Regions from separate parts of the Homo sapiens genome. Here regions 1, 2, 3, 5, 6 and 7 are each reported to be linked to region 4. The links are microRNA targets in miRTarBase. Many come from high-throughput screens and were not tested one by one. Region 4 holds a microRNA gene; each other region holds the end of a gene's coding sequence.
The links. The annotated mature microRNA hsa-miR-500b-3p reads GCACCCAGGCAAGGAUUCUG and lies in region 4 at 1,918-1,937, shown strand. An mRNA with a match to its seed (bases 2 to 7 or 8) in the 3' UTR can be bound and repressed. Matches are read on the target gene's strand: a 7mer-m8 pairs with bases 2 to 8, a 7mer-A1 pairs with bases 2 to 7 and ends in A, and an 8mer does both.

Region 1 (4,056 bases), not on the chromosome of region 4:
CCACCTTTTCAAAAGCCTCTTACAAGTCCCAGCCGGCTCTCTAGAGATCATGCCACTCTAAATGGAGCACTGCAATTTGCCACCAAACAGCTAAGCCGAACATTGAGTAGAGCCACTCCCATACCTGAATACCTAAAACAGATCCCTAATTCATGTGTTTCTGGGTGTTGCTGTGGCTGGCTGACTAAAACAGTTAAGGAAACAACTCGTACTGAACCCATCAACACTACTTATTCTTACACTGACTTCCAAAAGGCAGTTAACAAACTCCTAACTGCATCACTGTAAAGATCTACCATTTGCTCTGATATCTCTGATGTTGCTAATTGAGAAAGTGGTACAAAGTTAGTCATTACACAGCCCACTAATGCCTTCTCAGTCAAACTCTCTTATGCCCTGGCAAGCCAATGAGGATACCCTTTGACAAACCCTGTGGATAAAATGATAATATCAAGGTCAGGCATGGTGGCTCACACCTGTAATCCCAGCACTTTGGGAGGCTGAGGCGGGTGGATCTGCTGAAGTCAGAAGTTTGAGACCAGCCTTGCCAACACAGTGAAACCCTGTCTCTACTAAAAATAAAAAAATTAGCCGGGCGCAGCAGTGCACGCCTGTAATCCCTGCTACTCGGGAGGCTGAAACAGGAGAATCACTTGAACCCAGGAGACGGAGGTTGCGGTGAGTTGAGATTATGCCACTGTACTCCAGCCTGGGTGACAGAGCGAGACTCAGTCTCAAAAAAAAAAAAGGAGAATTAGTTAAGGGGACCATATTACAAAAGATAGTTGAATATTCTTCACACTCACTTCTCACCCTCCCCACCCCAATTTACTCTGCCTTTCTGAATGGCTTTAATGAGATACCTGATTATTAATGAAGAAAAGTAGACCACCACCCCTTTTGTTATCCAGACTTTAGAACAGCCATTGTTGAAAGCAAGAAGTTAGCTACCCACAATAATACCTTTCTGAGCATACTCTTCTCTAACATACATTTCTGTGGAAGTAGTTGAATTAAATTGAGTAACTACACAAAGGAAAATGGCAGGGCTATGAATTTCTTTCCCAGCTTTTATATAGATGTGCCTACATATGACACTCTTTAGGGTTCCTTTTATTTTTTCTTTTTTTTTTTTTTTGAGGTAGTTGAATTAAACTGGGTAACTACACAAAGGAAAATGGCAGGGATATGAATTTCTTTCCCAGCTTTTATATAGATGTGCCTGCATATGACACTCTTTAGAGTTCCTTTCACTTTTTCTTTTTTTTGGAAGGGGGCGGGGAGGCAGGAGGAGTGCAGTTTTAAGCCTAGCCTATACTACTACAAACTTATTATGGTACTTAAAATTACAGCATGAACGTTCTATATCGGAGTCTCCCACCAGGCTGTCTCTGACTAAATCAGCCTATAAGATCATCCCTTGGGATTAAACAAACACCTGTTCTGTAGGGAATGTGTTTCCTGAATCTTGGTACTCAGACTTTTGTCAAGAGTAAATAACATTTCAAAAGATGAATGGAAAAATGATTAAGAGAGCATTTCTGCTTTCAGCATTAACTGCTAATGGATTAAAATTTTAATCTGTATAGCATTTCCTGGAGTAAAAGCTCAAGTACTTTCCACATCCATTGCAAACTTTTCAGGAACCCTTCTAATTTTTTTTTTTTTTTTTTTTTTGAGACGGAGTCTTGCTCTGTCGCCCAGGCTGGAGTGTAGTGGCATGATCTCAGCTCACTGCAAGCTCTGCCTCCCGGGTTCGTGCCATTCTCCTGCCCTGCCTCCCGAATAGCTGGGACTACAGGCGTCCACCACCACTCCTGGCTATTTTTTTGTATTTTTAGTAGAGACAGGGTTTCACCGTGTTAGCCAGGATGGTCTTGATCTCCTGACCTCGTGATCCACCTGCCTCGGCCTCCCAAAGTGCTGGGATTGAACCCTTCTAATTTTAAAGAACCTTGTTATTAGAAAATCTCAGCCTAATACAATCTGAAGTTAAGAGTTTTAGCAGCATTGTTTTTCTAAGTAGATTTAGCTATAGATTTTCTTCTGGCCAAACAAGGAAGAGTATATGCCCTTGTAAATGAGTCTTGTTTTGTTTATTTAAATAGTCAGTCAAAACGTAGAAATCAGTATACGTAAAATAAAATGCATGAGACTATTAAATCTTTTCATATACTCTACAAATAAAATGAAATCTGTGTGTGGTCCTGGTTGACTGGGCATCTAAAGGGAATCAGAAAAGAGATTGTGAAAAGTTATATATATATCCTCTTCCTTATTTTAGTTTTGCTTTTTCCTATTTTCCATAATTAAGTGCCGTTTACAAAGTGGCATCAAAAAATTGAAGCAGGCCAGGCATGGTGGCTCATGCCTGTAATCCCAACAGTTTGGGAGGCTGAGGGCAGGTGGATCACTTGAGATCAGGAGTTCGTGACCAGCCTGGCCAACATGGTGAAAGCCCATCTCTACTAAAAATATAAAAATTAGCCGGGCGTGGTGGCATGTGCCTGTAATCGCAGCTACTTGGGAGGCTAAGACAGGAGAATTGCTTGAACCTGGGAGGTGGAGGTTGCAATGAGCTGAGATCGCGCCACTGCACTCCAGCCTGGGCAACAGTGAGACACCGTCTCAAAAAAAAAAAAGGTTAGGAATCACAAATTGTGTAAATATATAGCAACTTTAAGAAGAGAGAAGAATGCTTATAACCTAGTGAATATTTCTGCTGAGCCTTAGTTGTCTTGTCTAAAGGAAAAAAGAGGGAATTGTAGAATAAAAGTATTTGTTAGTGGAAATTATTGACCTGAAACCATATCATATTGTTAGTGTAACTGAATGTATCAGAAATTGTTCCTATGTAGGTATTCTGTGAAACTGGTTTCTAAAATGTTACAGGAAACTGTTTCCTTTTTTTTTGTTTGTTTGTTTAAGTGGAGGTGGGAGGAGGTAGGGAAGAGGTCTGAATATTAAAATATGTTTATGTTCATGTGTTCATAATACGTTCCTTTTTCTCTCTGTGTGTGTATAAAAGTGCCTTGCTCATGAATGCATTTTTGCTATTCACTTCGAAAGGAAGCCTTTCCCCAGCTTGGCAGCTGAATAAACCAATAGCTTTGTACATGCTGAACAGAGTATGGTCATTTGTCCTCAACAAATGAAATAGATCCTACTTTGCTTAAGGCATATTCTACATTCACTAAGTACTGAATAGAGTTAATAGATACAGTACCTGAATCTATATAGTATGTCTGACAGGAGATGACTTGGCGTCTCTAGAGAAGAAACACACTTGAAGAAGAAAATGTCTGATATTCAGTCAAGATTCAAAGTGAGCTTATTTGTTTATGTATTTTAAGTAATTCCAGGTTGCACAAAATAACAGGTACCTAAATAAGCCTTAAGTTAACTTTTTGTGTGGCATAAACACTGGGTTTGGGAATGAATTTACTACCTTTGCACTCCCTATGTTGGCTTCTGTTAAATGCAGTCACCATAATTAAGATAAAAAGATTATTTTATCCTCTATTTATAGAAATATTTATCAAAGGAGTAAGGAAACTATTTCTAAACCAGTGGACATTAACTGTCTTTTACTTTCTCAGTGCAGATAGGCAACTTTTTTTTTTTTTTTTTTTTTGAGATGGAGTTTCGCTCTTGTTGCCCAGGCTGGAGTGCAATGGCGCAATCTCGGCTCACTGCAACCTCCACCTCCCGGGTTCAAGCAATTCTGCCTCAGCCTCCCGAGTAGCTGGAATTACAGGCATGTGCCACCACGCCCAGCTAATTTTGTATTTTTAGTAGAGATGGGGTTTCTCAATTGGTCAGGCTGGTCTCTAACTCCTGACTTCAGGTGATCCACCCACCTCAGCCTCCCAAAGTGCTGGGATTACAGGCATGAGCCACCGTGCCCAGCCATAGGCAACATTTTTATTAAAACAGTCCAGATACCTTGAGCCTCAAAGACCATAATCACGTCTTTTAATCCCATCTGCTTCCTAAGAAAAGAAAAAAATCCATACATGCATGGCAGGAGGGCATATGATAGGTCCCCTCTAGGGG
Region 2 (4,067 bases), not on the chromosome of region 4:
CCCCGTGAGGCTCGAGTCAATCCGGACACAGTGACAGCGCGGGAGATGGAACGACTGGAGATGTACTACGCCCGCCTAGGCTCCCACCTGGACAGGTGCATCATCGCAGGCCTCGGGCTGCTCACGGTGGGCGGCATGCTCTTGTCGGTGCTGCTCATGGTCTCCCTGTGCAAGGGCGAGCTGTACCGCCGGAGGACCTTCGTCCCCGGCAAGGGCTCCAGGAAGACCTACGGCTCCATTAACCTGCGCATGAGACAGCTCAATGGGGATGGGGGCCAGGCCCTGGTGGAGAATGAAGTTGTCCAGGTCTCAGAGACTAGCCACACCCTCCAGAGGTCTTAAGAACTAGCCCACCTTATCTGGCTGCTTTAGCTCCAGTGCTACAAGGTCCACCCCCTGCTCCCGCCCACCTGACCCCTGCCAAGGCCCTGGGGTTTTAAACTGAGCTCACATAGGGCCTTGTGGAAGAAGTACTGGGTGCTGGAGGGAGAGCTCGGGGCCCAGCCCATGCCCCACACGGGCAAGCAGCCCACTGATCTGTTTTGTAGCTGAGGTTTTGCATACGGTTTTGTTTGGAGGATGGCTTCTGCTGCTAAAAATACAAAAGTTTGGAAACCGCTGCTCTTGGAGGATGAGGTTTCTTGGCATTTCTCAAGATTGGGAGCTGTTTGAAAGGTTGCCCATCCTCTTCCCTCATGCCTTGGGGAGTGAGGGACCTCTGCTGTCCTTATTGGCTGAGTGAGGGTGTTGATTGGCCGTGGAGGGGTCCCTTTCAGCCCTGATCATCTAAGGTGGGGGAGGTGGCTTCATGATGAGGGGAGAAGTCAGCACCAGAGTGACCCCCAGTACCCCCACTGACTAAACTGTGATCCTACCCTCACCAGGCCTCAGTTGCCCTGCCTTCAAGTGAGGGGGTTGGACTGGATGACCCCTCAGGTCCCTCTAGTTCTTCCCTGGGAATGGGAACCCAGTCTCTATCTCCAGTCACCCCTCCAGGGCAGGAAGGCATCCACCAGGCACTAACCATTCTCCCTGCCATTTTCTGGCCTGACCTCAGGGACCACCACAGCCAGCAGCTCTCATGGTCTCAGGGAAGAGCTCCCTGGTGGGGTTGGGTTCAGTTCAAAGTTTGCTACAGCCTGGTTTTGGTCTTGGGGTCTAATTTCCTGCAGTGACACATTTTTACAAAGCCAAGTGCACAATATTACCCAGTTCTCTGGGCAAGAAGGATCTTTTACACAGGAAAGGGTGAGGGCTTTATTGTATTTCTGTGGGCATGATGCAGGCCTTGATCACCTTCTCCTCCATAGTATGTCTCTTGCTCCTGACCTTATTTGGATAACAGGAAAAAAAAAAATTTATGCTGAATTTGTAACCTTAGTCTCCCTCATATAGTAGTAAAGTGAAGCCACAGTTTATTTGGGGGAGAAATCAGGCACATTTGGGTGGCCTGGACACGCTGGCCACATTGCCATTTGTGTTTTTCTTATGAAATGTTTCTAGGTTCCTGCAGACTTTCTTTAAACTCTTGGTAAGGAAAGGAAGTAGGCCCTGGGGCAAGGAGATACAGGTGTTTGAGGACTGTGGGGAGGCATCCTTCAGTCTGAATGGACCCAGAGGGCTTTGAGAGCACATGCCTTCTAAGCCACTGGTGTAGAGACCCTACAGGAGCCATTTTAGTGAATCCCCTGCCCAATGTAGGTCCTACTTACTCCATCTCAGTTGGCCACATGGGCCGAGGATCCTGTTCCTTGGGGGTGGGAGGGTGGGGGGGCATGGGGTCTGTAGTGTAGAGAGGCCCTGATTAGCTGTAACTTGAGCCTTCAGTCCAGTGAGTTAAACATCTGGGGAGTGTAATATCACAGCTTCTATGACAGATCAAATATCTGCTCCTACTGGTAGGTTTTACCAAGAGCAGAGAGCTAGAGGAAGACTGGAAAGGACAAGGGTTGTTTAGCTTGGCTTCCCAGGTTTTTGTTGTGGTATTGAAGGGGTATGGTGTGGAAAGAGCAAAGCTCCAAGATGGTAAAAGATTCACAAGTCCTAGGCTTCCACTGTTGTGTCGCTTTCTCCCAGGCTCCAAGTAGGCACAGCCACAGAACGTGGCATGAGCTGTTCTAAGTAAACTACATAGGATTGGACATCCCAAATCATGGGCTAAGGCTTTTCAATCCATAATGATAATTAAAAAAATATCAACCAAGTCATATGGATTACTGTGATGGTGGCAGACTCATTTGGATACTAAACCTGTTGAGTGAATGCATCTGGGACCATCAGTTCATATCAGTTTAAATGCAATGAGTTTATTTAGGGGAGAAATTGGGCATATTTGGGTGGCCTGGACATGCTGGCCGCACTACCATTTGTTTTTTTCTTACGAAATGTTTGATGTTAATCATCAAACAGATTTAGGGGCTAAATCTGTTTGATGATTAAATCCCAGGAGTCTCAGGTTTTTCTAAGCCAGAGAAGCCTGCTTTGCATTCTAATGTTGAAAGTCCTTTAGAAAATGTGTATAATGGACTGAGGCGTTATTACCTTGTCAGTGAATTAAGAAAACTTAAGAGATGACAAAAGCATTTCCCCATGATTACAGCTGAGATCTGCCAGCTGATGGATCAGAAACAGGTTTAAGGAGGAGGTGATTAGGAACACGGAGTAGGATGCTGAGAACTTTCTTTGCAGGCATTCCAGGGGCCTCTGTGGTTACTGGAATGTGCCTCTCCTCCAGGAACTGCCTCTCCCACCTAACCTGCTCCTAGGGCCCCAAACCTTGCTTTTCCTGGTGCATCAGAACAGATACCGATTTTGGAGTTGGTAAGACTAAAGTTGGAATCCAGGCTCTGCCACTTACTGGCTGTGTGACCTTGGGCAAGTTACTCCACCTCTCTGAGTCGGGATTTCTCTATCTGTGAAGTGGGATTAATGAAAGCTCTGCCTCAGGGTGGTGGTGCAGATTACAGATAAAATGGAGAACTGCATAGTATGAGGTCCAGGGATGATGATGCTCTCCTTCCCCACCTCAACTGGGGATAGCTGGATTAGGCCTCAAACGCTGTGGTCAACCCTTCTGCCTTTCTTCTATCACACCTCACATTCCAGATCAGCGCATCTTGTCAGCTCCACTTTCAGAATCTGATTGCTGTCCACCCTCGGCTGTCACCGCCAGTCCAGGGTTGCTCACTGGTGTTCTGGCTTTCTCTCTTACCCCCTTCTCCTCCCCTCCTCCCCGCCCCATCACCAGGTTCATGCTCCACTCAGCAGCCAGAGGAAGGCCAGAGGCTGGTCAGGTCAGGCCACTCCTCTGCTCAAAACTCTCCTATGGCTCCCTCTCCAGGCAAAAGCCAAAATTCTCACCACAACCAGTGGCAGATTTATAGCAAGACTGGCAAAGCTTAAGTGTCCGGGCCTCTCACTAGCACAAGCCCCTTCCAAGGCCCTGAATTGGTTTATCTATCTTGAGGATGCCCCACTGGACTGCATAAGCTTCAGGTACCCCCAAACCAGGGTTCATCCCTCACAGTGGCCTACAAGGCACTAAGCAATTGGGACCCTGTGCTTCTCTGACCTCATCTCTCACCCCTTACCCCTTGCTCACTCACCCCAGCCACACGTGCCTCTTGACCATTCCTCAACCTTACTGGGCACGCTCACATCCAAGGGACTTCAGACGTGCTGCTTCTTCTGCCTGGAAGGTACTTCCCCTCAGTATCTGCAAGGCCCACTCCCTCACCTCCTTAGGGGCTTTATTCAAATATCTTCTCCTCAGTGAAGCCTTTGCTGAACACCATATTTAAATTTGTACCCCACCCCACCTCATTCCCTTTTGTCCTTCGCTGCCTTATTTTTCTCTGATCACTAATCATGACCCAGCAGGCTGAGCCTTGTACTTGTCTTTCCCACCCACGACCTCTCCTGCTGGACTGCAAGCTCCATGAAAGCCGGAATTTTGGTCTAACTGGTTCTTGCTGTACTCCCAGTGTTAGAAACATGTTTGGCACATAGTAGGTGCTCACTGTTGAATGAATGGATGAATAAATGTAACAAAAGCTTCTTATACCTGC
Region 3 (4,067 bases), not on the chromosome of region 4:
CCTGAATGTTTATTTTACAGATGTTTTTGCCCTTGCTTCTGCAATTAAAGAGATGTGTGTGGCTACTCGGAAAACACGCACTGCCCTGTGGTGTGCACTGCAGATGACCTTGCCAAAAACAGCCAGTACAGCTGATGTGGTAAAGCCTTTACAAGATACAGTAAACTGTGAAGATAAAGTCCATGAAAGCATAAATAGTAGCAATCCAATGAACCAGAGAGGTGAAACAAACAAACATTAAGGAAATGCCAGCAGAAAGAAGAATAAAAAGCTGATAAATATACCAAGACATGCTAAAAATGTTTTAATGAACTTGTCAAACTTTCAGTATGTTTTCTTTCAGATTTAAAGTTAATACCAGTACCTTAATGAAGTCTAACTTCTATTTAAAAATCTTCTATTTGAAGTGAATCCGATATAGTTTTAAGTAAACGCAAAGGTACAGTTGACTACTCAGAGTTCTGAGTAGTCAGATAACAAGTTTAAGTAAATTAAATATTTCCTAACAGCTAAAATGTGCTTAAACTCATTCTGCCATGCAGGTAAATGCAAATGTGAAATTCTTCTAGGAGATAAATTTCATTTAGGTTTGTCTTAGTTAAGTATAATTCCAAATAATGAATCTAAGTGACTGTAACCCAATTACGGCTACAGCCTAGTAACCAAGACAAGTTTTGATTGTGATATCAAAGTGTTTTCCTTACAAAACTGGATAATACCTGGGAAACAAAGGAAAATACGGATAAACCCAATATTCATGTACAAACTTAATATTTAAAATACTATACTACCATATTTATAAATTTGGAATCTTAATGCCTAGGTATATGGAGGGAAATGCATCTGATTCTCCTAAATTAATGATAAAAGTGTCAGTGTAAAAACCATGCAAGTTACTGAATATAAAACCTATTCAGATCATTTGTGTATATTCTTTAAATTTTAATTATATTATCAATTGTTAAATGTTTCCAATTTTAAAGTTATTTAAATTGAATCACAAAACATTCCCTTTATCTGGATCTTTTAGACTTGATGCACAGTAACTGAAATAATGACTACTGTTTTAATACCCTTAGTTTGCTGCCTTTTATGAGGGTGTCACGAAGTTCTAAAATGTATTTTTTTAAAGGTTAATCTCTAACTAGTTTAGCTTGCAATTGGTTAGTGTATATTTTGTGTAGTTGTGTTCATTAGTTTGCTTCTAAGTTCTAAAATGTATTTTTTAAAGGTTAATCTCTAACTAGTTTAGCTTGCAATTGGTTAGCCTATATTTTGCGTAGTTGTGTTCATTAGTTTGCTTCTGTATTTTTTTAAAACTATTGAAAGCTTAACTTTTTCTGTTTCTCATCACTTAGTATCTTTGTATAGAACTTGAGTAATTTATTCGTTAATATGAAATGTTGGTATTATGTGACTCAGAAGATCTTGGGTTTTAACATTTCTAGCATGAGTTAAACTATAATGTACTGATGAAATTTAATTGAAATATCCTTGACTAGAAACACTGATGTTTTAAATGTTAGTGTTTTTCTTAGTTTTAGAAATTCTGGTATTAAAAAAAAAAAGAGTGTAATCATACCACATAAATTTTCTTTAGATGATGTGCAGAAGAAACTGATTGAGAATGCAAGAGTAACTGTAGGGAGAAACATTTTGATCACTGATATGCCTTAGAACTACCCAAATGAATTACATTGAGGGTAGTCAAATAAAATAGATCATCTCACCACAGTCACTGCATAGAAAGTGGTTAAGTTTAACATAAGACATGTTGGATGTTATAAAAACAAATACTGTACTGAATTTAGTCTCAGGAAAAAAATAAATTACTTTGTTGAAAACATTTGGTTTCATTTTTCTAAATTCATATGTTTCTAACCTTAAGAGTCACTCATATCAGAAAGTCAAATGAATTTCATTTAAGAACTTATACTAAGTTTTAGATTTCATTATTAACGCACAAGTAATAATGTTGGTTTATAAATCAATGCCATTCAGATATCCATGGATCTAACCAGATCTCCTTCAAAGATGAAATTTTTGCTCTATCTTTATGCTAATCCGTGTAAACCAGAATAAAAATTTTAGGGAAGCTTTTACATGATACTGGTCAGAAATGAAATACCAGTCCGTTAATAAGAACCAAACACTTAAAAAAATTCTTTGAAATATTGTTAATCATATCACCCAATAGATAATTTTTAAATTAGTCGGTTGTCCCTTTCAGTGGCATATCCTCTAACAGATGGTTCTTATGTACTTGTATTTCTGAATTACAACCTATAAAACATTGTACTTCTGAATTACAACCTATGAAAACATTATAAAACTTTTACAAAATTTGCAGTGAAACTGATAAAACTGATGCTCCCGCCATTTCTAATCTGAAAGAACTTGGTGTACTCATTCTTTTTAATGGAAAAAGCAAAATTACCTTGAGTTGTTATCAGTGTCCTTCTCACTTGAATAATCTGCTACTATAAAGTTTTAGAGGGTTGAGAATTTATGACTGAAATCCAAAATCTGGCCTAAAACTCAATCTTACCATAGAAGATATGGTTGTTTAAAATTTGCCCTTTGCAGCTGGGTGCCGGTGGATCACGCCTGTAATCCCAGCACTTTGGGAGGCTGAGGCGGGTGGATCACGAGGTCAGGAGATCGAGACCATCCTGGCTAACACGGTGAAACCCCATCTCTACTAAAAATACAAAAAATTAGCTGGGTGTGGTGGCACTCGCCTGTAGTCTCAGCTACTTGGGAGGGGGAGGCAGGAGAATCACTTGAACCCGCAAGGTGGAGGTTGCAGTGAGCCAACATGGCGCCACTGCACTCCAGCCTGGGTGACAGAGTGATCCGTTTCAAAAAACAAACAAAAAAAATATGCCCTTTGCAATACTGAACATTTTAGACGTAAAGGATTTATTAGCACCTGAGTCAAGTGGATAACTAAACTCAAAGCCTAATGAGCTGATCCTCTATTTTCTGTTTAAGCATTAGTTTGAGAGTATACTTAACTGTGACATACATAGCAGAGTCCCAGAAGAAAGAACTGACTACTAACAAATTGAAACAAGTACCCTTCAGGGGACCGTGGATATAACCTGACTCCTTCAGTGACAAAAATCAAGGTGAGAACAACCCAAAATCCCAAAATAAGGATTACTAAATTAAAATAGGCTCTATCATACCCTATCGCTACCACCACATAAAGGACTAAGACTGTAATAGTAAGGACCTCTAAGCCAATTTCCTGATGTTCCAAAAAACATGCTAATCTTTCTGATCTAATTCCTACTTCACAAAAAGGAAAATTGAGAAAGAGGATTTATGGATTCCAGGAAGAGCTTCCACTAGTGGAATATAAGTTATAGGGCTAATCAAAACAAAGCATAAAATAAAAATCAACACATTCCTAAGTAACTACTCACACATATTTCATTTCCATGGGTACGTAGAAGCAATCAAAATAAGTCAGAAGACAGCAATTTAAATAAGATTTATTTTTTTAAAGGTGGTTATTTTTATTTTTTGCAATGCCACAGTTATAGGAGTGTATGAAGAGGTAACATGTCTCCTTTTCCTTAACCATGTTTTTTTTTTTTTAACCTTCTGCACAAAGGTAAAAGTTTTTGTTAATCTCATAGTTAATGGTATAAAACAGAGATTGGCAAACCTTTCCTCCAACAGGCCAGGTAGTAAATATTTTAGATTTCACAGACCACATATTTTTTTCTTTTATAACTCTTTAAAAATGTAAAAATCATTTTTAGTTTGCACCATACAAAAACAGACTGGGCCAAATTCGGCCCGTGGGCAGTAGTTTGCCAACCCCTGGTATAAAATATCTACTTTGTCTTGTCAGAGAAATTGCTGTCCTTAGGCTTCTAGACAATCTGCTGCCTGAAGTCAAGTGGAGAAGGGCCTTATTTACAATTTAATGTGGTTTGTGACAGAAGTAGAAATGGAGAGCTTCTGCTCACTTTTGACTCTCCCAGTTTTTCCATTCACTCATTCATTCAATAAATTTGTTGAGCACCTACTATGTACACTCTTAAATATCTTGG
Region 4 (4,067 bases):
CATGGAACTCTGCAGGAGAAAAGATTCTCTGCCTTTCTGTAAAGTCCCTAGTAAATGACACTGTATATACATGAGAGTGAGACTTGGTTATAGCTACACATGCACACATACAAACACACAAAAAGGGCAGGTGTCAGAGCCTTCTTGTCTGCTCCCCCTCTTGAATCCTTGGAACCTAGGTGTGAGTGCTATTTCAGTGCAACACACCTATTCAAGGATTCAAAGAGGCTGAGCCTTGTCTACATGTAGAAGGACCAACAACCTGTCCCCTTCTTTCACATGTTTGTGTTTGCTATGCGGTGCCAGATCCTGCACTGGGTGGTGGAGATACAACGGTAAATAAGACAGCTAAGGTCCCTGGGCTCTGTAGAGGGCACCTGTGGGAGAATGAACTTCATCATTGCCCTGGACAAGCTTACACCTCTTTGAGAGCATGAGCTTTCTGTTTACTCCCAGCTTACTATGTGTCAGATACTGTAATGGGGAAACACACATTGGGTGATGAGACTTGCACAGCCAGTCTTTGCTCTCAGTGAGCTTATAGTTTACCAGAGAAACAGAAGAGAATGAAGTATCCCAATTTTCTGTACCATCTTCCAACATGTGCATGTACATGTGTGCCCACATACAGTTTGTCCCAACCTCCTTGCTAGGCCCCAAATACATCCAGCACCTGCAGACCCTCAAGTGTGATCTGAAAAAGATGCCACTCATATCTTTCATTCTAGTCTGAGGTTTTGTCTGAGAGGGCATGTCCATGTGGCCTTGTGCAGGGGGATGAATACATATGCTATCCCTGAGGAGAGGCATCTGTCTTAGCAAATGCACACAGAGATACTTTGCAGGAATGGGACCATGAAAGTCAAATATATATGGAGATATACATGCAGGGTGCAGGTGCCTGAGTCTTCTGCTCTGCTCTTCCTCTCTAATCCTTTGTCCCTGGGTGAGAGTGCTTTCTGAATGCAATGCACCCGGGCAAGGATTCTGAGAGGGTGAGCCCCCTCTGCGTGGAGAACAGAAGATCTGTATGTCACCTCTCAGCTGCTTGCTGCTTGCCTGCCTGCTCTCTGACCCTCATTCATTCTTTCCTTCCACAAATAATATGTATTGGGCACCATGATGGGCATTGGACACAGAGAAATGAACAAGGCAGACTTCGCCCCTGCCTTCCTGGATATTATAGCCTGAGAGGAGAATGGACTTTGTCACCACTCATTGCCCCTGCATATACTGAGGGTGAGTGGGCCACATAGGAACTTCTTATCTACCCTCTTCCCACCTTAACCCACCCATAAGTGTGAGTCTTCTCATTCCTGCTGTCACATTGATACTTGTTTCTTGTTTTTTCCTTCTTTCCTTCCTTCCTTCTTTTCTTTTTCTTTCTCTTTCTTTTCTTTCTTTCCTTCCTTTCCTTTCCTTTCTTTTCTTCTCTCTTTTCTTTTCTTTCTTTTTTGATGGAGTATTGCTCTGTTGCTCAGGCTGGAGTGCACTGGCACCATCACAGTTCACTGCAGCCTCAACCACCTGGGCTCAAGCGATCCTCCCACCTCAGCCTCTCAAATAGCTGGGACCACAGGCTTGTGCCACCATGCCTGGCTAATTTGTGTTTATTTTTTGTAGAGATGGGGTCTCACTATGTTGCCCAAGCTGGTCTCAAACTCCTAGGCTCAAGCAGTCCACCAGCCTTAGCCTCCCAAAGTGTTGGGATTATAGGTGTGAGCCACTGCACCCAGCCTGATACTTGTCGAAGCAACTTCTCTCTACTTTAGTTCAATGCAAGGTTAATGCACTAGGCAAGAACAGCAAGCCTTCTTGTTAGATGCACATGTGAGGTGTACAGGTACTGGAATCTCCTGTCCTGGTTCCCCCTCTCTAATCCTTGCTACCTGGGTGAGAGTGCTTTCTGAATGCAGTGCACCCAGGCAAGGATTCTGCAAGGGGGAGTGACATCTTCGCATAGGACAGAGCACTTCTACCTCCTCCTTCCATCCTTTCTATGACTATTTGTTGAGTACCTACCTACTCTATTGCAGGTGCTGTCCTGGGCAGTTGGCCCACAAGAGAATGAGCCATATCTGGTTCCCTACCTTCATGGAGTGTACAGTTCAGGGAGGAGAATGGACTCCTTCTCATTCATTATATCTGCATGTCCTGAGGGTGGGTGGGGTACAGGGTGGGTGGGGTACAGATACATGTTGGAGAATCTACTAAACCTCAGTACAATCACACATAAATACGCTGTGTGCAAGAGAAAGGGCCTGACTTGGTTACATCCACAGAGACATGTCCTCACAGAGTGGTCCCTCTGACCTGGTGCATCACTCACATTCTTTCAGCCTGTGTGCCAGTACTGCCTTGACTCACTGTCCCTTTTCAAGAATTCCAAGGGAAGAAGCCTTGTCTACACTTAAAAGGACAGAGCTTTTGCACATCAACTCTCCCTCCTCTTCCTTCCACAGATACTCAAGTGTCTATTAGACAGCAGGTATTATGTTCATCACCAAGGATATAGCAGGGATCAAAATGGACAGGTTGCTACCCTACATTCTGGTAGGGACTCATAAACACACTATACATAAATGTTGTGGATGAATAGGCCACTGTTCAAAAGAATGAAGTAGATCTATATGTTCCTTGTTACCCAGTCTGCATGCACAAGCATGTGCAGGTTCTGCTCAAGTGAAATTCTCAAATGTCCCCAATCCTTGTACACCAGACACACTCAGAGACATGGCCCTGCATGCAGAGAACCCCACCTACTGAAAGGGTAGGAGATGGAGCCTGTTGTGCTCTCCTCTCTCCCATTCTCAGCGTGCAAGCCAGTGAGCTTCCTTAACTCCCTTATAGATGGGGATTAAATGAGGGAAGTCTTCTTACTGCTACTTTCCTTCTTGCTGCTCTGTATAGGAGAGATCCTTTCATTACTTTTCTGTACAGTCACAGATGAACACACTATATGCGGTGAGCCTTCCCTGTAAACCCATGTGAGCACATGTGCACACACGCACACGTGCACACACACATACTCTGTATGGCTGCTTGGGCCTTCAGTCCTGTTCCCCCTCTTGAATCCTGGTACCTGGATGCAAGTGCTGTGTCAATGCGGTGCACCCAGGCAAGCATTCCACGGCTGAGCCTTTTCTGCATAGAGCGAAGAACACCTGTTTATAATCCCCATCCTTCATTCATTCCCACCTTTAACAAGCAGGGGTGGCGCTCCTGTCATGCACCAGACATGGAGAGACAGGGTGGTCAAGAAAGACACAGAACTCATACTCACATGCCTAGTGAGCATGTTTAAGAGAAGGAACTTCCGTTGCCCACATTGTTCATGCATACGTATGTAGCAGAGAGTGAGTCTTCCCATCATCCCCTCTCCAACCCCCCAACAGTGCTCAGCTAGAGAACTACAAAAGGTGTGTCTCCCCTTACACAGAGCTGCAGCCACAGTGTGCATAGGATAATGAGTGTCATTAGCAGCATCTTCTCACTCATGTCTGGTGTGCAAGGCAATAGGCTTTCTACTTGCTGCTTATGCCACCAGAGCTTGAAGGAAAGTGGCCCTACTTGTCAGTCATCTCACACATGCATATGAAGAAAAGACACTTCACCTTTGTATGGTCATAGGAAAATCACCTGTGAGCCAGAGAGTGCTGTTTCTTTTGTACATACACACAAACACAATGGATTTGAAGATGCTCGAGCCTTCTATTCAGGTTGTCCCTCTCTTTCATTCTTCGTAGTTGGGTACAAATGCTATTCCAGTCCATTGCCTTGTACAAAAATTCAGAGAGGGAATCTCATCCATGTTTAAAAGTGTAGAGTCTTTGCATCACCCCTCTATGTCCCATTATTTCATTTCTTTAAGTTATGTATAGAGCAGTGGTTCTCAGTGTGGTCCCTGGGCCAGCAGCATCTGTATCACCTAGGAGCTTGTTCAAAATGCCAATTCTTGGGCTCATCCCTGACCTACTACACCATAAACCATGGAAATCTGTACTTTACCAAGGCTCTCAACTGATTCTGATGCTCACTTAAGTTTGAGAATCACTGATTTAGTATAA
Region 5 (4,067 bases), not on the chromosome of region 4:
CTGCTTACCCCCCAGCAACCACCGTCTCCCTCTATGGCTCAGTGTTCACTGGTGCCCAGCCAGATGTGTGCCCATAAAATGCCCCTTCTAGGTAACCCCATCTCAGATGTAAGAGCAGATTGGAGTGGCTTTAAGCAGGAGAGGAGCCCTGCTGCCCCCTTCCCAAGGGATTCATTCATTCATTCTTCAAAGAAGCATTAGAGCCCAGTGGAGAATTCAGACGCTGGAATCAAATTGCTGGGCTGGAATCCTGGCTCTGGGACCTGGGCAGCCGACATCATCACCTCTCTGGGCCTCAGTTTCCACATCTGTGACATGAGAATAATAACAGTGCCCACCTCAGAGGGCTGCAAGTCTCAATGAGTTAATGATGCCAAGTACTGAGAGCAGGGCCTGGCACATAACAGGGGCTCATTAATTGGAAGCCATTATTATCATTGAGCCAAGGGACTGTGGAAGGGGGGTGGGGTGGAAGCTATCAGGGAAGGCTCCCAGGAGGAAGGGACATCTAGGCCAGAAGCTAAAGGATAAGGGGAAAGTTAGCAAGGCAGCAGGGGGTTGGGAGGGGTGGAAAGGTGTCATAGGCAGAAGGAACAGCAGCTGTAAAAGCTCAGAGGTGAGGAAGAGGTGAACTGCTCTGTTGCTCGGAACACCTCCTTCATTCATCCCCCACCAGTCTTGGGGGTCACAGGCTATGGCTGAGGTCATGGACTCCATGTCCTCTGGAGGGTCCCGCTGAGCATTAGTGGAAGACTGCAGACTGGAGCCGCTGATCAGGGAGCTCACCCCCGTCTGCACCCCCAGGGTCTCTAATGATTGCTTCTGTTTTACTAGATTTTTATGTATTCAAGGGAAGCTTCATGCACTTCCCAGTCACGTCACAACAACTAACACCCCGCAGGAGCTTGGGAACAAGAAGAAAGCACAGCCCGTGACACCCAGCGAAGTTGAATGATTTGGTCGATTTGGTCAGAGCCACGCAGCACACACAGGTATTACTCTTCCACCCTCCTGCTGTTCTTGGCAGGCCTGGCTGGGCTGAGAAAGGGAGGGCCCTTCCCCACTGAGTGAGACAGAGGCTATTGTGTGTTATGAAACCCAAAACTCTGGGGCCCCCTCCGGCTGGAGGTGGGGTCGGTGGAGGGGAGGGGCTGCAGGGGATGGCCCACTGCCCCCCAGCCCCAGGGACCCAGCACATGCTCCCAGCCCCAGCCACATCTGGATTCCAGCTGGCAGCTCCTGAGGCCCAGGGTGCGGGGGAGAAGTCGCTGCAGGAACTTGCCATCAAAGACCAAGAGGAGTTTTGTGGGTGGGGAGACAGAAGGCAGAGGCCGACTGCAGGGCCAGGGCTGCCTCCTACTCCCGATCCCGGCCAAGGGTGCAGTGAGGGGGGCATTGTCCATGAGACCCGTCCCAGTCCTCAACCACCTGCAGGGGAAACAGAGAGGTGAGTGACTCTCCCATGGCCACAGTGGCAGAGCTGGGCATGGAACCTGGGTCTGCGTGGCCACAAGTCCAGAGCTGGTGCTCCACCCCTGGGGACATGAGTTCCAGCCCATTCCTCGGGAGCACCGGTCTTTCCTTTGTTTCCCACATCAATCTGTCCCTTCACCCTCCAGGACTGGGCTGATGTGTCTCCCCAGAAAGTTGTCCCCATCCCCATGCAAGAGCCCCTCCCCAGCAGGCTCATTTCCCCCACCCCCCAGAAAACTGGTGAGACTTCAGGCCGGAATAAAGGTTTATTGTGCTGGTGCATTATATCTCAGCACCTGGAGAGCTGTGCAGAGGTTGGGGGAGCCCCAGATGGAGGGATGGGGGAGAGGACCTCCTGCCAGAGCCTCCCTAAAGCAGGACGGAGCCCAGGCTCCCTGTCGAGGACTGACGAATATTGTGGACACAGGCTGCCAGACAATGTGTGAGCAACAGGGGGTGGCCAGGGCCCCCCTGCTCCAGGCTGGGCGTCAGAAACCCTTCCCCAGCCCCTCGGACTTCCCCAGGGTGGAGGTCCCCTCAAACACAGCCCCTCAGCTTCTAGGCTGCTTTGGAGGCCAGACAGGAAGAGTTCCATTCATTCAACCTGATCCCAGCAGCAGTAGCGGGATGAGAAACTCACCCCCAGGCCGGGGGTGCTTGGAGAGCGCTTGAGAGGATTTAAATGCCCTATACCCCACATCCCTAATCCTGGACCAACTAGAAACAGGGGGCCACCTTCAGGAAAATTAAGAGCAGTATTTTCCAGAGTGGGTGCTGCAGGATTTTACCCTGTAGCTGTTTTAAAAAGTAGTTTGGGCCGGGCACGGTGGCTCACGCCTGTAATCCCAGCACTTTGGGAGGCAGAGGCAGGTGGATCACCTGAAGGTCAGGAGTTCCAGACCAGCCTGGCCAACATGGTGAAGCCCCATCTCTACTAAAAATACAAAATTTAGCTGGGCGCAGTGGTGGGCACCTGTAATCCCAGCTACTGAGGCGGGAGAATCGCTTGAACCTGGGAGGCGGATTGCACTGAGCCAAGATTGCACCAAGATTGCACCACTGCACTCCAGCCTGGGTGACAGACCGAGACTCCGTCTCAAAAAAAAAAATCTTGTTTCCGTAGAGTGCCTCGGGGAACCTAGTTTGGGAAATGCTCATTTAGGGACCTGTCGTAATGTGTGCAGGGGTCCTCTCACAGAAGTGTCCTAATTAACCACACACACTTCTGCTGCTGGAGCTCTGAGCACAGGCAGAATGACACTAAAATATTCAGCATTGAAAGGACACAAGAAGGGAACCATTTGCAGTTTCAAAATACTGCTTCACGCCAGGCTGCATGTTGCCTTACGAACGCTGGGCACCTTGGCGTCTCTCATCCAAACTCTTCCAAAACTCCCACTTATTCTTTGCTCCCTTGATGGAAAAGCAGTGATGTTTGCCCCACAAATGACCTGTGACATATGATTCCCAATTAATGTGGCTGATTTAGTGGACTGTTTTTTGTTTTTATAGAGATGGGTCTCACAATGTTGCCAGGGCTGGTTTGGAACTCCTGGTCTCAAGTGATGTCCGCACTTGGCCTCCCAAAATGCTGAGATTACAGGTGTGAGCCTCCACACCCAGCCTTGAGGGATGTTTTATCCTGGCTGTCACAGGGACACGTGCCCTCCCTCACTTTGTCAGGGGAGCTGTGCTGTAGGATGTAGCCCTTTGGGGCTGCTGAGGTGAAGGATGATGGCACTTGGTAAGATTCCTCCGGGGCACCGGGGACCAGCATTTCTGCCTGCTGTAGAATCAGCACATGCTGGGATTGGCACCACAGGGAGGCCAAGGAGGGAGTGTCAGGAAGCAGTCAGGGCTGAAGGCCTTTTCATACACGGGGAGGTGACCACTTGGGGGCCCGACAGTCAGGGCTGGCAGCCCGGGAGGACTGTTAGACACTGGGGTGGACACTGCTGCAAGCACAGGGGCTTTCGGGGGGACCCACTGGTCCCTGGGCTTCCTGGGCTAACAAGAGAGACCCTTCCAGCTCCCCTTGGCCCTCACCGGCCACCACAGCCCCCTCAAGGACCCCTGAGCACGGCTCCTCCTGCGCCTCTGGTGTCTCCACTGGGACCCCATGTCCCTGGACTTCCTGGTCCCCCTCCTGGCTGCCCTTCTCCTCTTCCTCTGCGCCCCTGCCCTCCACCATCCTGGCTCCGTCCCCACCGCCCAGTGCAGCCCTGGTGGGGGACTTGAGGTTCTGGGTGGCGGCCAAGATGTCGGCCTGGAGCTGCCGGGAGGAATCCAGGGCTTCCTCGGGCCTGCTGTCGGGGGCTCTGTCGGGGACCTCACTGAAGGCCCGGGGGCCCCCGGCCCGGTCACTCTGGTCCACGTACTTCTTCTTGGGGAAGGACGATGGGTAATAGGCCGAGGCCTTCTGCTTCTGCCGGGTGATGACCGCGGCACAGACGATGAACATCAGCAGAAAGGCCAGGGAGCCCACCACAGCAATCAGCATCACGTACTGGCGGAAGAAGTCCACTATCCCATCCAGGAAGTTGGTGGGGGGTGATGGGCCCCCCAGGGTTATGGGCTGGGGCCCCATCGATGTG
Region 6 (4,067 bases), not on the chromosome of region 4:
ACAGTAAGTGCCTCCAAGGTGACAGGGCAAGCTGGGGAGGAGTCATCTGAGCCAAGTCATATTTGTAGGCTGAGCTTGCAGGGAGGGCATTCCAGGCAGAAGCCATTGCTAGTGCCAAGCATAAGCAGGCACCAGGAAGTGAGGGTGGAGGTGACCAGGCCAGTGAGTGCATGGCCTTGCCCATGGTCTCTGATGCCCCTGCCTGTCTTCCTGCAGACTACTCTGCCCTCCCAGGGCCCACTGCAGAGACCCAGCCGGCTGGTGTTTACCGATGTGGCCAATGCCATCCATGCGTGAGTGGCCTGGGACAAGCCTGGACTTCTGATAGAGACCCATCACGGTGCCTACAGAGCTCCCCACTCCCTGATTGTCAAGACCTACTCTGAAGATCTTCCCTGCCAAGACACAAGAGGGCTGAGCCAGGTCCTAGCTGTTCTCCAGACCCACCTGCTGACTTTAGACTCTAAGAGAGGGCCCTAGCCAGGCTGGACTTCTGACCACTGACTTCTCCTGACCTGAGGGCCCTGGCACAGAGGGCATCCCTCATGCTGAGAAGGTCAAGAGCCTCTGCTGGCTTCCTCATCCCCTGTCCAGATCCCTCACATCAGGGTCTGCCCCGCTAATGTGGAGGAAATGAGGGAGATACGGAGTGGGAGGGATTGGGGGAGGAAAGGGGAGGTTTCCCTCTGTTAGGGAGAGACCTGTTTTTTGGAATCTGGAGCCTCCTCTGGGGTGGGGAGAGGAAACCACCCAAGTTATAGGGACAGGGTAGGGCAGCATCTGTTATGGGCCCTGAGAAGCCCAGAGATGGAGCTGAAACTGTCCAGTATGCAAGGATGCCAGGAGAAGGGCAATTCACACCCAGGGTCCATCCATACTACGGAGGGTCCAGGAGGTCTCCCAGCCACCCATCCTTGGCAACCAGATGTTACTGGGGCCAAGCTAGGATGGGAGCTGAGGGGGAAGGAAGTAGGGGAATGGAAGTGGAAGGATGCAGCCCCCCCAGACCTGCCGAGAGGCCTCATGCATGTGCATGAGTGTGCCCATGGGCAGACATGTGCCTGTCCCAGCACAGCGGGCAGAATGAGATTGTCCACACTGGCCCCACCCTCCAAGTCGACCTCTACCCCATGGTATGTAGTGGAGCATCAGGGTAGGCTATCTTCTCTGCCTTCAATCTTCAGGGACTGCAGGGAAGAGGGAAGCACGCACAGCACGGTTCCTCTCTCCACTGCATTGTTTCACTGGGCTCACCTGCTTCTGAAAACGGCTCCCTGTCTTGGGCTCTAATGAGGATCTGGGGTTGGGAGAGGCTGTTGGTCTGAGGGCAGTAATCACAGGCTGCAGGCTAGAGGGGGCAGTTATGACTGCCTGAAAGTGGGTGAGGGATTGCACTTCAGAAAAACATCTAAAAAACTTAGTCTATGTTTGAATTCCCCACCTCCATCCCATCTATGGGAAGAGCCGTTCAGTGTTTAGAGAGTGGGGAGATGGGTCCCTGCACTTGGCCTCTCCATAAGCCTTGGAGGGTCAGGGCTGATACCAGGGGTCCTGGCAAGCCATTGGGCAGAGACAGACCACAAGAGCAGGGCATTTTTTTACGCTGGGCATACATATGCACACAAGCATGCACAGAGGCATGTCCCGTGCCCAGCCTCTCCACCGTCACTGTCCGCTGCTGGCTGGAGGGGATGCAGGGGTAGTGTATGCAGACCTTCCACTGGGCAAATGCCATGTGTCAGGAGGGAAAGGCCTAGGAAGCCCCCATGGGGAAGGTTCTGGATTTATTCCCTCCTCTAAATGCTATAAATACGTTAGCACTTGAGTCGACTGGAGGCTGCCAGGAATTCAGGATGCATACAGCTGTAATTTAACCCAGAGCAGCTCCACGTGAGAGCATTAAAGATGTAATGAAGATGTTTACATGGAGAGTGTGTGAGCCTGTGACGCTTGGGGTGTGGAACCCTAGGAGGGGCAGGATGGGTGAGGGGCTGTGGGGGGCCTGGGGATAGTTGCTTGGATCACAGCTATGAGGTGGCACCCCAGGTTTCTCTTGAGCCGTCTGAGGAAATGCCTCTGGCCCTGACTTCGAGGTTGCCCTGGGGCTTCATTTCCCAACTGTGGATTGGGGTCCCAAGGCCTGTCACCCCCTAGGGTGGAAAGGTCAACTGGACAGGACCTTGTGAGACCGGAGGAGGAAGGGGGCTTGAGCCCCAAGGGCCCCGACGGGGGTATGGCACCTCGGGACCCAAAGGAGCTGGGTCTGAAACATGAAAGGAAGCAAAATAGTGTGGCTTTTTCTGGAGCACAGGGGTGCAGGGGAAGGGTGGGGGGTGGGAAGCCATTAGGGTCATCTGTGTGGAATCCACCCGCAGGGTTCAGAAGGGTTTGGGGGAGAATGACACTAGGGTGACCAGCCATCCTGGTTTTCCCAGGACTATTCCAGTTTTAGCCCTGAAAGTCCCACAAAACCAGGACTCTAAGTGACATCTAGGCTCTCCCCAGAGAGCTGAGCCTTCAGGCCAGCGTCATGGAAATAAGGGGCGGGCGAGCCCCCACTCCCCCAGTTCCACGATGGAGGGCTGAGCTAGAGGAAGGGGCTGGGGGACAGGGCCTTAGGTGAGGGGAGGGCCACGTGCCCATGAGCCAACGACACTGGGGTCACAGCTCAGCCTGTCAGTGATGGCCTTGATCTTTGGAAGAGGTCTCCTCCCCTCAGCAGATTGGCAGGATCTGGAGGGGCATGGAGTGAGAGGAAAGGCGGTGGTGGGCTGTGTCCTCCCACCCTGTTGGGTGGGCCTTCAGCCCAGGGATGTGGGAGCTTCAGAAGATCCAGCGTCTGGGGGATCCTGAAGAAAAGGGGCCTGTGGAATAAGGCTGGCTCCCAGGGACCAGGACCTGGATGGGGGCTCCAGGAGAACCCCAGTGCCCATCCGCTCCTGCTGCCTGCCCCATGCCCCTCTCCTGCGGGGTGGGCTTGGCTAGACGATGTGCACAGGGCAGCTGTCTCTGTGGGTGCCAGGGCACATGTTCACACCTCTTGTGCCCTCACAGGCACCTTCTCCCCCTTCCACCCACCTTCTGCCCTCTAGCTCTTATTCCCAGTCCTGCAGGAAAACCAAGTTCCCAGCAAGTTCCCAGGTCTTCCAGAGTGTGGGGTCAATAAATATTGGGGTGAAAGGTTCTGGTTGGTGTGTCCTCCTTGAGGCCTTGAGGCTGGTGTGGTCACCACCCTCAGCCAGGCAGTGGAATGAGATGGAGTCACCTGCCTGCCTCACTACTCCTGGAATTGACTATTAAATGGAGCCCTTTGAGAAATGCCCCCTGCCCGACAACACACACACACACACACACACACACACACACACACACACACACACACACACACACACACACACTTCCATAAGTAAAACCCTTCCTTGGGAGTAGCAACCAGGGCTTGGGCTCAGAAGCTGGGCAGTTTGCGGTAGGTGGTATCTGGGTGGATGCGGCTCGGCGCCTTCAGAGGCCATCTTCTTGTTTAATAAAGAGAAATGTCACCTTCGAGCCAAAGTGAATGAAATAATCCCATTGCCTGGCTCCAGGCAGACACTGGGGACGCCTACAGAATGTAAAGGAAAGTTCTTGCGGGGGAGGGCCCAGAAACTCCAGTAGAGCAGCTTGACCTTGCTGTGGATTCCTTCCAGAAACATTGCTAAGCGTCTATCATGAGCCTGGCACCACGGTCCTGAGGGTGAACCAACCTAGACTCTGCATTTCCATTTTAGATGGAGGAGACAGATATCAAATAGGAAAAAAGATGTGTGTGTATGTGTGTGTACACACATAACACACATTGTTTAGGTCTATATATCTCTATATCTACATCTGTAGGAAAAAGAAGGTGGGGTGGGGGCAGGGTGTGCCTAGGGATTTTATAGGCTGAGGGCAGACACCCCACCCCATCCTGCCCAGCTGCACCCCTCAGCAGGCCTCAGTGTGGAGAGCCATGGTCAATGATATCTGGGGGAACCCTAGGAGATGCTGTTTTGACATCCCCACACACCTTGTCCTCTGAGGGCTCAGGA
Region 7 (4,059 bases), not on the chromosome of region 4:
TTGGAGAGATTTTTCTCTATGTGCATCGTGATGACTTCAGTTAAAGACCAAACACCTGTGCTCATGTCCCACTACGTGTTGAATACGAAGTTGAACTGATGTTAAAACTCGCCATCTGTTCTTCAAGTGAAACAAACACAACTGCCTGCAAAATGGAACTAATGGAATTATCATACTTATTCCCAGGAGCTGAGGACAGGGACTGGCGGCAACAGCGGAATATTCCGATTCATTCCTGCCCCAAGTGTGGAGAGGTTCTGCCTGACATAGACACGTTACAGATTCACGTGATGGATTGCATCATTTAAGTGTTGATGTATCACCTCCCCAAAACTGTTGGTAAATGTCAGATTTTTTCCTCCAAGAGTTGTGCTTTTGTGTTATTTGTTTTCACTCAAATATTTTGCCTCATTATTCTTGTTTTAAAAGAAAGAAAACAGGCCGGGCACAGTGGCTCATGCCTGTAATCCCAGCACTTTGGGAGGTCGAGGTGGGTGGATCACTTGGGGTCAGGGTTTGAGACCAGCCTGGCCAACATGGCGGAACCCTGTCTCTACCAAAATTACAAAAATTAGCCGAGCATGGTGGCGCATGCCTGTAGTCGCAGCTACTCGCGAGGTTGAGGCAGGAGAATTGCTTGAACCCAGGAAGTGGCAGTTGCAGTGAGCCGAGACGACACCACTGCACTCCAGCCTGGGTGACAGAGGGAGACTCTGTCTCGAAAGAAAGAAAGAAAAAAAGGAAGGAAGGAGAAGGAAGGAAGGAGAAGAAAAGGTACCTGTTCTACGTAGAACACCTTTGGTGGAGTTCCATCAACTCGCAAAGTAGAATCCTTACCTACTACTCTTCTGATAATAATTTTAATATTTTTTATGTTTGGTTGATGCGAGCAGCTGCACTGCTCATGCAGTTAGCTAGCATGTGACATCATGTGACAAAGTTCATGTAATTAGATGGAAGAAACCTCACTGATTAATTTTAAGAACCTTTTAGGGATGCAGGAACAATGAAGTGGCCACAGTATGTGCTGTTTTTGAAGCATTTTTAAAAACGAATTGTAGTTGTTTTTCTTCATTTAAAATGGATCTGTTGGAGGTTATGTGTGTATGTTGTAGTTTTATTGCAGCCACAATAATTTTACCAAAGTTTTCACATAGGCAGTTAGCCTTTACTTAATATCAAGACAAGTGAAAAAATATTGGCATCGATGAAACCGATAACATTGGCCTCATTGGATTTCTTTACCCATTCACAGTGTAAAGAAGTTACCTTCATGCTTTCATTGTACCTGCAGGCCTGTGGGCTTGTACAGTAGATAATTAATTTCTAAAAAGAACAGCTGCCTATTTTCTTCCTAGGTTAGGTTATATCTTCATAATCACAAGAATTAGTGATGGCAAAATAAAATTTTGCTTATGAATCTTTTACATTGTTTATATATGATTAATATCATCATATATATTTTCTGTATTAAGCTCATTTGGCTTCATTTAAGCTGTATACTTAGTCATATATCTTTCATTAGTTCTATGGATATGAGCAGATCCCTTTACTGGAGCCCAGTATGTGCTGTGTGAGTTAGAAGTCATTCTTGCTGAGAAGGTGAATAGGTAGGGATTTGCCTTGTTTTGTAAGTCTACAATTTGCCAAGAGTAAATAACACTGGACCAGCTGTAAAAGTAAACAGTGTGTTTATGCATTGAGATACTAAAGCATTTAAGAAAAAATTAAAAGATCTCTTTTGTTTAAATTTGTCTTAAGAATCTCTCCTAGACAAACTTGACTATACACACACACACTTCAATAAGAATCAAAATAGTTCATTATATCTTCATGCCAAGAGAACACATGATACAAATTCAACAGTAATTTCAATTAAACGAGTCCCCTACCACACCTCAGGGAGAATATTTGTTAAAGACATTTCTAAAGTAACTCTGACATTTTTACTTTTCTTTGTTATGGTTTCTAATGTAAATTTTTTCCCTTATCATCTTATACTGGAGGAAATATATTTCTATAGTCTCCTAAACAGAGAAGGAAACCAAATGGTTTCACATTTAAAGTTATTGGACATAATCCTTTTACTTTGTTCAAGTAAAAATATTCAGCAAAGCCAGACTGAAATAATAACATGAATGGGCTTATTAAGCTTGTGACCAAATCGTTTGTTTAATAGTTGGAAGAATTACAAATGAAGGCCATTTCACGTAGTCAGTTTAAATTAAGGCTGTTGTTTCCAGCTTGGTAAATAGCTTATAAACTCTGTGCACATCTTACCTCATTTATTTATTCTAATATCCCTTCAAAGGCTCTGTTCCATGTGACCAGTTAACTATACCTCCTAGGAATTTTGTGTCTGTAAAAATACATAGTTGAAGATTGCACTCTTAACAGGTTTACGACTATCCTGGATAGTATTGTTAACTGTGTGCACATTGTTGTAGAGCAGATCTCTAGAACTTTTTCATCCTGCGTGAATGAAACTCTACACCCATTCAACTGCAGCCCCCATTCTCCCCTCCCCAGTCCCCGGCAACCACCACTCTCCTTTCTGCTTCTGAGTTTCACATACCTCCTATAAGTGGGATTACATAGTATTTTTCCTTCTGTAACTGGCTTATTTCATTTAACATACCTCCCTCATTCAAACCATAACTTCCTGGATGAAGGTTTCAGGCAAAAGCACCTGGGAAACCAGGCCTTTGCTACTCATTTACCCCCCATTCCCCACCCCACCCCCCGCCCCAGTCCCGTGCCTCCACCTGCTGAGCACCGTTCCATTTGCCGATGCTCTCATGTTACCCTGGGAGACATAAGGTAGAAGAGCCATGGGGACTCTGCTCGAGGGTGGTATAAGGCATTTGAAACTAAGCCTCTTCATTAACCCAATCCATATCACAGAGAGGCAGCATGGGTGCCCCTAGCCCAATGGCCGGGCTATTTGCTACTGCAATAATAGGTTTCTTATAAACCGTCAGCCTCCTGAGTAGCTGGCACCACAGGGACACCACAGGCTATTTTTTAAAAAAATTTATGTAGAAATGGATTCTCACTGTGTTTCTCAGGCTAGTCTCAAATTTCTAGGCTCAAGCAGTCCTCCCGCCTCAGCCTCCCAAAGTGCTAGGATTATTGGTGTGAGAGGAATCCCTTTCAACCCTTGAAAATAAATCAAGCGGTGATGAACTCCCTGAGCTTATATTTGCCTAGGAAGGTCTTTATTTCTCTTTCATTTTTGAAGGACAGTTTGGCTGGACATAGTATGTCTTATTTGGCAGTTTGTCCCCTTCTGCACTGTGAATATATTATGTCAGTCCCTTCTGGCCATCTGGCAAGGTTTCTGCTATGAAATCCACTGTTTTATGAAGGATCTCTTGTTCATGACAAGTTGCTTTTTGATTTTAAAATGACTCAATGTGGATGTCTTTGGGTTCATTCTAGTTGGAGTCCTTTGGAATTCTCGAATCTGGATGTCTATTTTCTACCCCAGATTTGGGAAATTTTGAGCCATTATTTTTTTTAAAGAAGCTTTCTGTCCCTTTTTGTATTTCTTCTTAAATTCCCATAGTGTTTATATTGGTCCACTTAATGGTGTCCCAGAAGTTCCTTAGACTTTCATCATTTTAAAATTATTTTCCCTTTTTGATCCACTGACTGGATAATTTCAAATAACCTCTGAGTTCATTCTTTCTTCTGCTTTATCAAATCTGCTGTTGAACCCCTCTAATAAATTTTTCAATTTATTTTATTCTTCACTGCCAACATTTCTGTTTGGTTCTTTTTTATACTCTCTCTGTTGATATTCTCATTTTGTTCATACATCGTTTTCCTGAGCTCACTGAACATCTTTTGAATTTTTTTTCAGGTAAGTCATATACCTCTAGTTCTTGGGGTCAGTCTCTAGAGATTTCATTTGCCTCTTTGGGCCATATTTTCATATGTTTCTTCATGTGTCTTGTGATTTTGTGTCGGGATCCATGTATTTGAAAAACAACTCTGTCTTCCAGTCTTTAAGGACTGGCTTCATACAGGGAAAGATCTTTTCCAATCATCTTGGCT

Region 1: the mRNA of DCAF16 is a reported target of hsa-miR-500b-3p. Seed matches in the 3' UTR shown: 8mer at 710-717.
Region 2: miRTarBase lists TMEM74B as a target of hsa-miR-500b-3p. Seed matches in the 3' UTR shown: 7mer-m8 at 474-480.
Region 3: the mRNA of MEIOC is a reported target of hsa-miR-500b-3p. The part of its 3' UTR that is shown has no 7-base or 8-base seed match.
Region 5: the mRNA of TMEM119 is a reported target of hsa-miR-500b-3p. Seed matches in the 3' UTR shown: 7mer-m8 at 3,090-3,096.
Region 6: miRTarBase lists C3orf18 as a target of hsa-miR-500b-3p. Seed matches in the 3' UTR shown: 7mer-A1 at 1,379-1,385.
Region 7: the mRNA of OPTN is a reported target of hsa-miR-500b-3p. Seed matches in the 3' UTR shown: 8mer at 694-701.

What each region holds. Positions count from the first base shown.
Region 1 is chr4:17,799,723-17,803,778 of GRCh38, reverse strand. It overlaps DCAF16 (DDB1 and CUL4 associated factor 16), which reads left to right. Exons shown (of 3, transcript NM_017741.4): 3 at 1-3,124. The coding sequence ends at 288. Among named protein-coding and RNA genes, the nearest start is that of DCAF16, 9.0 kb to the left of the region's middle.
Region 2 is chr20:1,177,123-1,181,189 of GRCh38, reverse strand. TMEM74B (transmembrane protein 74B) reads left to right here. Exons shown (of 3, transcript NM_001304748.2): 3 at 1-620. The coding sequence ends at 342. It overlaps LOC124904855 (a long non-coding RNA gene), which reads right to left. Exons shown (of 2, transcript XR_007067486.1): 2 at 1,238-4,067. Among named protein-coding and RNA genes, the nearest start is that of TMEM74B, 5.8 kb to the left of the region's middle.
Region 3 is chr17:44,673,956-44,678,022 of GRCh38, forward strand. MEIOC (meiosis specific with coiled-coil domain) reads left to right here. Exons shown (of 8, transcript NM_001145080.3): 8 at 21-1,846. The coding sequence ends at 241. CCDC43 (coiled-coil domain containing 43) reads right to left here. Exons shown (of 5, transcript NM_144609.3): 5 at 3,485-4,067. Among named protein-coding and RNA genes, the nearest start is that of CCDC43, 14 kb to the right of the region's middle.
Region 4 is chrX:50,008,805-50,012,871 of GRCh38, forward strand. It overlaps MIR500B (microRNA 500b), which reads left to right and starts at 1,868; the gene lies at 1,868-1,946. All of the region lies in intron 3 of CLCN5 (chloride voltage-gated channel 5), which reads left to right. It overlaps MIR362 (microRNA 362), which reads left to right and starts at 160; the gene lies at 160-224. MIR501 (microRNA 501) reads left to right here and starts at 918; the gene lies at 918-1,001.
Region 5 is chr12:108,588,126-108,592,192 of GRCh38, forward strand. TMEM119 (transmembrane protein 119) reads right to left here. Exons shown (of 2, transcript NM_181724.3): 2 at 1,726-4,067. The coding sequence ends at 3,407. Among named protein-coding and RNA genes, the nearest start is that of TMEM119, 7.9 kb to the right of the region's middle. RefSeq lists an enhancer at 653-1,381.
Region 6 is chr3:50,555,887-50,559,953 of GRCh38, reverse strand. It overlaps C3orf18 (chromosome 3 open reading frame 18), which reads left to right. Exons shown (of 6, transcript NM_016210.5): 6 at 217-1,929. The coding sequence ends at 297. Among named protein-coding and RNA genes, the nearest start is that of C3orf18, 9.8 kb to the left of the region's middle.
Region 7 is chr10:13,136,559-13,140,617 of GRCh38, forward strand. It overlaps OPTN (optineurin), which reads left to right. Exons shown (of 15, transcript NM_001008212.2): 15 at 187-1,750. The coding sequence ends at 308. Among named protein-coding and RNA genes, the nearest start is that of MCM10, 23 kb to the right of the region's middle.